2 separate regions of the Homo sapiens genome follow, and region 2 is reported to be linked to region 1. The links are microRNA targets in miRTarBase. Many come from high-throughput screens and were not tested one by one. Region 1 holds a microRNA gene; the other region holds the end of a gene's coding sequence.
Evidence for each region. Region 1 holds the annotated microRNA hsa-miR-330-3p (GCAAAGCACACGGCCUGCAGAGA, at 1,163-1,185, shown strand). A microRNA usually pairs through its seed, bases 2 to 8, with sites in the 3' UTR of a target mRNA and lowers its output. Matches are read on the target gene's strand: a 7mer-m8 pairs with bases 2 to 8, a 7mer-A1 pairs with bases 2 to 7 and ends in A, and an 8mer does both.

Region 2: the mRNA of CLTB is a reported target of hsa-miR-330-3p. Seed matches in the 3' UTR shown: 7mer-m8 at 2,376-2,382.

The regions. Positions count from the first base shown.
Region 1 is chr19:45,636,960-45,640,193 of GRCh38, reverse strand. It overlaps MIR330 (microRNA 330), which reads left to right and starts at 1,107; the gene lies at 1,107-1,200. EML2 (EMAP like 2) reads left to right here and starts at 797. Exons shown (of 19, transcript NM_012155.4): 1 at 797-837; 2 at 1,321-1,349; 3 at 1,560-1,689. The coding sequence starts at 818. RefSeq lists silencers at 503-592, 613-892, 1,589-1,883 and enhancers at 268-1,119, 1,589-1,883, 1,120-1,971.
Region 2 is chr5:176,390,333-176,393,332 of GRCh38, forward strand. It overlaps CLTB (clathrin light chain B), which reads right to left. Exons shown (of 6, transcript NM_007097.5): 6 at 2,169-2,613. The coding sequence ends at 2,442. It also overlaps a transcript of ARL10 not described here. Among named protein-coding and RNA genes, the nearest start is that of HIGD2A, 3.1 kb to the left of the region's middle.

The sequences.
Region 1 (3,234 bases):
GTGCAGTGGGCGTGGTCAGCGCTAGGAGGCCACGCAAGGGCAAGACCAAGGTCAAAAGCTGCACATTTCAACTCTGCTCAAACATAGCAAACACAAATACAGCGTTGTGTATACTCCAGGCACTTCCCAATAATTAACCAATTTCACCCTCGCAACTACCCCCGGGAGGTGTGAGTACTCTTATTTATTTATTTATTTTGAGACGGAGTCTTGTTCTCGTTGCCCAGGCTGGAGTGCAATGACACAATCTCAGCTCACTGTAACCTCTGCCTCCCGAGTTCGAATGATTTTCCTGCCTCAGCCTCCCAAGTAGCTGGGATTACAGGCGCCAGCCACCACGCCAGGCTAAGTTTTGTATTTTTAGTAGAGACGGGGTTTCACCACGTTGGCCAGGCTGGTCTTGAACTCCTGACCTCAGGTGATCTGCCCGCCTCGGCCTCCCAAAGTGCTGGGATTACAGGCATGAGCCACCGCGCCCGGCCGGGTACTCTTATTATCCCCATTTTTTAAATGAGGAAACCGAGGCAGAGGTTGGACGACCTGTGTACACTGCTAGGAATTAGCAGAACTGGGGTTTTAACTCAAGCAGGCGCGCTCCCGAGTCCATGTTCTCAACCACTCTCCCCCACCCACCCCGAAAGAACCTGGGATCGGGAGTCCACAGCCCGGGATGTGTGACCCGGTGGGACCCTCCGGCTCCAGGGGTGGCTGTGGAGGGCGGGGCAGGGGCGCGGCGGCCCGGGCGCCTCCCAGGGCCGGAAGCGGCAGAGCCGGTCCCGGCTCCACCCCCGGCCCCGAAGCTCCGCCACCCGCCGCCATGAGTAGCTTTGGAGCTGGGTGAGACCCTTTCGCAGACCACCCCCCATCTCCTCTCCGCGCTCCCGGGGCTTAGATCTCAGGTTTCACCCAACCCCTGGGACCCAGACCGGCGTGGGGACACGCCCCTTCCCTTAAACTCTCCCCGTTTCTCCCTCTGCTTGACGTTTGGTGTGCTGGGGGAACTGCGGGTGGGGGGCGCTGGGGAGCACCTTGCTGATTAGGAGGGAAGGGTCCTTGGTGACTCCCTTCTTCCAGGATCGCGTCCCTGCCACTTCGTGCTGTGTGATCTTTGGCGATCACTGCCTCTCTGGGCCTGTGTCTTAGGCTCTGCAAGATCAACCGAGCAAAGCACACGGCCTGCAGAGAGGCAGCGCTCTGCCCCTTACTCGGCCCCGTTTTCATCGGAGACCTCCGGGGAGCGGTGGGGGTGGAGGAATGGTTTCTCCCCTTTTCTGAACTGAATACTAAGACCCTTTTTTTTTCTTTGTCCTTTCCTGACAGCAAAACCAAAGAAGTTATCTTCAGTGTGGGTGAGTGGGGAGATGGGGAAGGGCTCGGTGGAAGCTTGCTTGTTGGGGTGACAGGCTGGAGCCAGAGGTCAGGAGTCTTGGCTACTGGGTCTTTGCCTCTCTGGCCTCAGTTTCCCTGCCTTTAAAAAAATAAATAAATAAAGCTGGAAGAGGAGAGGGAATAGGGATGGGGCTGGTGTCAGTGCCTGACCTCTGGGGGTGTCCTGGCAGAGGATGGCTCCGTGAAAATGTTCCTGAGGGGCCGCCCTGTGCCCATGATGATCCCAGACGAGCTGGCACCCACCTACAGCCTGGACACACGCTCGGAGCTGCCTTCTTGCCGGCTCAAGCTGGAGTGGGTGTATCCTTTTGCTGGAATCTCCTTGGTGCTCCCATCCCCCCAGGAGGAAATAGAAAGGCGGTCAAGGCAGCTCAGGCCTGTAATCTCAGCACTTTGGGAGGATCGTTTGAGGCCAAGAGTTTGAGACCTGCCTGGGCAACACACAAAACAAGCACAGCACGTTCAAGGGCTATGTGGCCAGAGTGGGATTGGTGCATTTGAGCAAAAAGAGTTGGGAATGGCTGGAAGCCCGGGCTCTGGAGTCTGACAGAGATGGGTTCAAACCCCAGTCCAGCCCGTACCTGGCCGTGTGACCCTGGAAAAGTCGTCTTGACTCTGAAAAATGAATTTTATGATCTCAGGTCCATAGACCTGTGAAATAATGTGTAAAGGTACTGAGCTCATAGTATGTGCCCCATGCACAGGGACTGATAAAACACTAACTCAGCACATTGGGAGGCCGAGGTGGGTGGATCACTTGAACCCAGGAGTTTGAAACCAGCCTGAGCAACATAGCAAGACCTCGTCTTTACAGGAAATAAAATAGCAGGCCGGGCGCGGTGGCTCATGCCTGTAATCTGAGCACTTTGGGAGGCCGAGGTGGGCAGATCACCTGAGGTCAGGAGTTTGAGACCAGCCTGACCAATATGATGAAATCCTGTCTCTACTAAAAATACAAAAATTAGCCGAGTGTGGTGGCATGTGCCTGTAAACCTAGCTACTCGGGAGACTGAGACAGGAGAATCGCTTGAACCCAGGAGGCAGAGGCTGCAGTGAGCCGAGATTGCCCCACTGCTTTCCGGCCTGGGCCACAAGAGTGAAACTCCGTCTCAAAAAAAAAAAAAAAAAAAAAAAAAAGAAAAGAAAAAGAAAAAAAAAATAGCCAGCCATGGTGGCATGCTCCTGTGGTTCCCAGCTACTCTGGAGGCTGAGGTGGGAGCATCACTTGAGCCTGGGAGGTCGAGGTTGCAGTGAGCCATGATTGTGCTATTGCACTCCAGCCTGGGCGACAGAGCGAGACTCCTTTCTCAAAAAAAAAAAAAAAAAAAAAAAAATCCAAAATAATAACTCAAGCACTTACTATCTGACAGACACTGTTGTAAGTTATTCCAGGTATGAATTTATTTTTTTACAACTAGTGGCCTCCAAGAGCTCTGAGGCCTACAGTTTGGAAATTATTATACCTCCTTTCCAGATAAGGAAACTGAGGTTATAGGTAGGAGACAACAATCCTGATTCTGGGACCCAAACTTTTTCCTAAAATCCTATTGAGCTTGGAGTCCACACCCCAGGAACCCGGTCCTTGTCTGCTTCTCTCTGGGCCTTGGTTTCCTCTTTGGAGGAGCCAGGGTGGTTGGTGAAATGGCCTGGCCTTCTGGGTGCCCAGAGCCTTCTCGAGGCAGCTGGAAATATCCCCTGGAATCTGTCCCAAATGTCCTGCCAGTAGGGCTTGATAAGCATCTGATGAGAGGTGGCTGAGACTGCAAAAGTGAGGACCTCAGATTGCTCCCCTTTGCAGTGACTGCAGGTCAGAGCAGTTTCATGGGGTCAGGATATATGTATATT
Region 2 (3,000 bases), not on the chromosome of region 1:
TAGTCGGGTCAGAGGCAGAGGGTTCTGCCCTCCACTCCGCATAACCTCCTCACCCTGCTCCCACCTCCCTAGAGTCTATGGGGCTCCACTGATCTAGACCATCTAGTTCTTTTTTTGAGACGAGTCTCACTGTGTCAGCCAGGCTGGAGTGCAGTGGCAGAATCTCGGCTCACTGCAACCTCCGCCTCCCGGGCTCAAGCAATTTTCCTGCCTCAGCCTCCCGAGTAGCTGGGATTACAGGTGTGTGCCACCACGCCCGGCTAATTTTTGTATTTCGTATTTTTAGTAGAATACTAAAACAACATGGTTTCACCATGTTGGCCAGGCTGGTCTTGAACTCCTGACCTCAGGTAATCCCCCAACCTCGGCCTCCCAAAGTGCTGGGATTACAGACGTGAGCCACCACGCCCAGCCTAGACCATCTGGTTCTTGACACAGTATAGAAGAGGAAACAGGCTCAGAGAAGCAGTCTGGTACAGTGGGAAGAACACAGTCCCGAAGCTCTCCAGAGATTTGTGTACATAGTGTTTGAGGGTTCTGGAAGAGGAGGCTGAGGACCTGAGCACACTCTAGAAGAGAGGTGACCTGTTAGTTCCTCCTTCATGTAGTTTCAAACAAGTATTCCTGGTCTGTGGTCAGCGCTCCTCAAATGTTGGATTTGAGGACCTGCGCTCTTCCCGAGTGATTGTACTGTTTTCAACACCAGCTTCAAGCTGGCAGAAGGAAAAAGGGAGTGAAGACACACCCCTTCTTGAACCCCCCAACAGTCTAGATCTCAGTGGAGGGCTGTACTAGGGCCAGCTAAGTTGCTTGCCTCCACCATGTTCTCTCAGCTTTGAGGCAGAGATGATAGATGTAGAGCAGTGCACTGTGGTGACCCTTGGCATCCAGATACAAGACAAGGACATGGAGTGATGACCACTGTTTGTAAGTGTTGGTGTCATGGTGTCCCCCTCCAAAAATGTTGAAGTCCTTCTAGTGCCTTAGAATTTGACCTTAGGCTGGGTGCTATGGTTCATCCCTGTAATCCCAGCACTTTGGGAGGCCAAAGTGGATAAATTGCTTGAGCCCAGGAGTTTGCCCAGCCTGGGTGACATGGCAAAGCCCCGTCTCTACTAAAAATACAAAGATTAGCCAAATGTGGTGGCACGTGCCTGTAGTCCCAGCTACCTGAGAGGCTGAGGTGGAAGGATTGCCTGACCCAAGGAAGTTGAGGCTGCAGTGAGCTGAGATTGCACCACTGCACTCCAGCCTCAGTGATAAAGCGAGACCCTGTTTGAGAAAAAAAACAGAAAACGAAGATTTGGCCACAAAGACAGACATACCTAGAAGGCAATGTGCAAACAGCCACCTGATGGGGGCAGGATTGGGGTGATGCGTCTGCCAGCTAAGGGATGCCTGAGGCTACCAGAAGCCAGAAGCAGGTGGAACAGACCCTTCCCCAGCTCCTTCAGAGGGAGCATGGCTCTGCCACAGCTTGATTTCAGATTTCTGGCCTCAAGAACTATGAGACAATAAATTTCTGTTCTAAGCCAGCTAGTTCATGTACCTTCTTACAGAAGCCCTAGGAAGCTAATATTTACTGGCAATTACTCAAATCTTTTTAAACATCATGCAGGTCATGAACGTCCTGTTTGCAAACTCTGCTGAAGGGGAAGAAGGTGTGATCACTGGTTGTTTATCCAAAATCCAAGATGAGCCCAGTTGAAGGAGGAAGCGAAATACACAGGGCAGTGGACCCTCCACATCCAGAAGGTCCCAGCCAACCCTAAGGAGGGGAGTCTCATGGGTCTTCAGGGCTCTTACCCAGGCTTAGGAGGAAGCTACCACCAGGAACCTCTGGTCTCGCTTTTCCCTCCCACTACAAGCCACTTCCCCTCTGGGAACCTTGGTGTCCTTGGTTATATGGTGAGAATAACAGAATTTACCTCACAGACTTGTTAAAGGATCGAGGTTACAAAAGCATTCTGCGAGAGGCTGTCTTTCCTCCTGGAGGTGGAGGCAACAGACATGGAGAGCTTGGGGCTCCCACTTGGCTGGGAAATGGGGGAACATTCTCCCTTCTCTCAAGGTCATGAAGCTGGGAAAGTTCTAAGCACAAACCGAGCCCTGACACCAGTTGTGGCTTCCAGAGAAGTGAGAATGATAATAAATAAGTGTAAAAAGAGTCAACAACACACCCTTTAAGCCAAGAAAAAAAATACATCAGGAGGGACAGTCACAATTGAGTAGACTGAGAGGAGGCGTGAGGGGCTGGACCAGAGGGCCAGGAGGGAGCGAGGCGTGATGGGGTGAGGGCCCCCCTCCCAGCGCCTGGAGATGGGGAGGAGTGGAATAGGCTGTGGGTAGCAGCTGCTGCGAGTCTCCACCCCGACCAAAGCAGCTGCTCCTCCTGTGCCCAGGCCCAGCCCATGCTCTGTGGCCATGCACCTAGCAGGCACCTAGCGGGACAGTGGCGTCTGCTTCAGGGACATGAGCACCGAGCGCAGGCGGGACACATCTTTGCACTGCTTGCTGCTCTTGGGGTTGAAGTCACATAGCTGGGCCACCTTCTCCCACTCTGTGCCTGGGGTCTCCTCCTTGGATTCCTTCACGAAAGCCTCCTCGGATGCCCTGCGGGTGGAGATAGGACGGGCTTTTATAGCAGTCTGCTTTCCCCCAGCCTTGCCCTTGAGCAAGGCTGCTTTGCCCAGCCTACTCTGGGGCACTGTGTCCTCCCCAGCCTTGTGCCCCCCTGACTTCAGAGGAGGGCAGCCTTGGCGCAGGAGGAAGCCTAGCTTGGTCCTGCCTCAGGACCTTGGCACTTGCTATCACCTCTTCCTGGAACACGCTTCTCCCAGACCTGTTCCTGGCTTGCTGCTTCTTGTCATTCAGGTCTCAGTGCGGGCCTCACCTCCTCAGAAAGTCTTCCCAGCCTAGGCACCCTCTGTTCATTACTTCCCCATCGGGAGTTCCCAACCTGAGGTTCCTGACACCTAAAGACCCTTGGAGGTCCTAGGA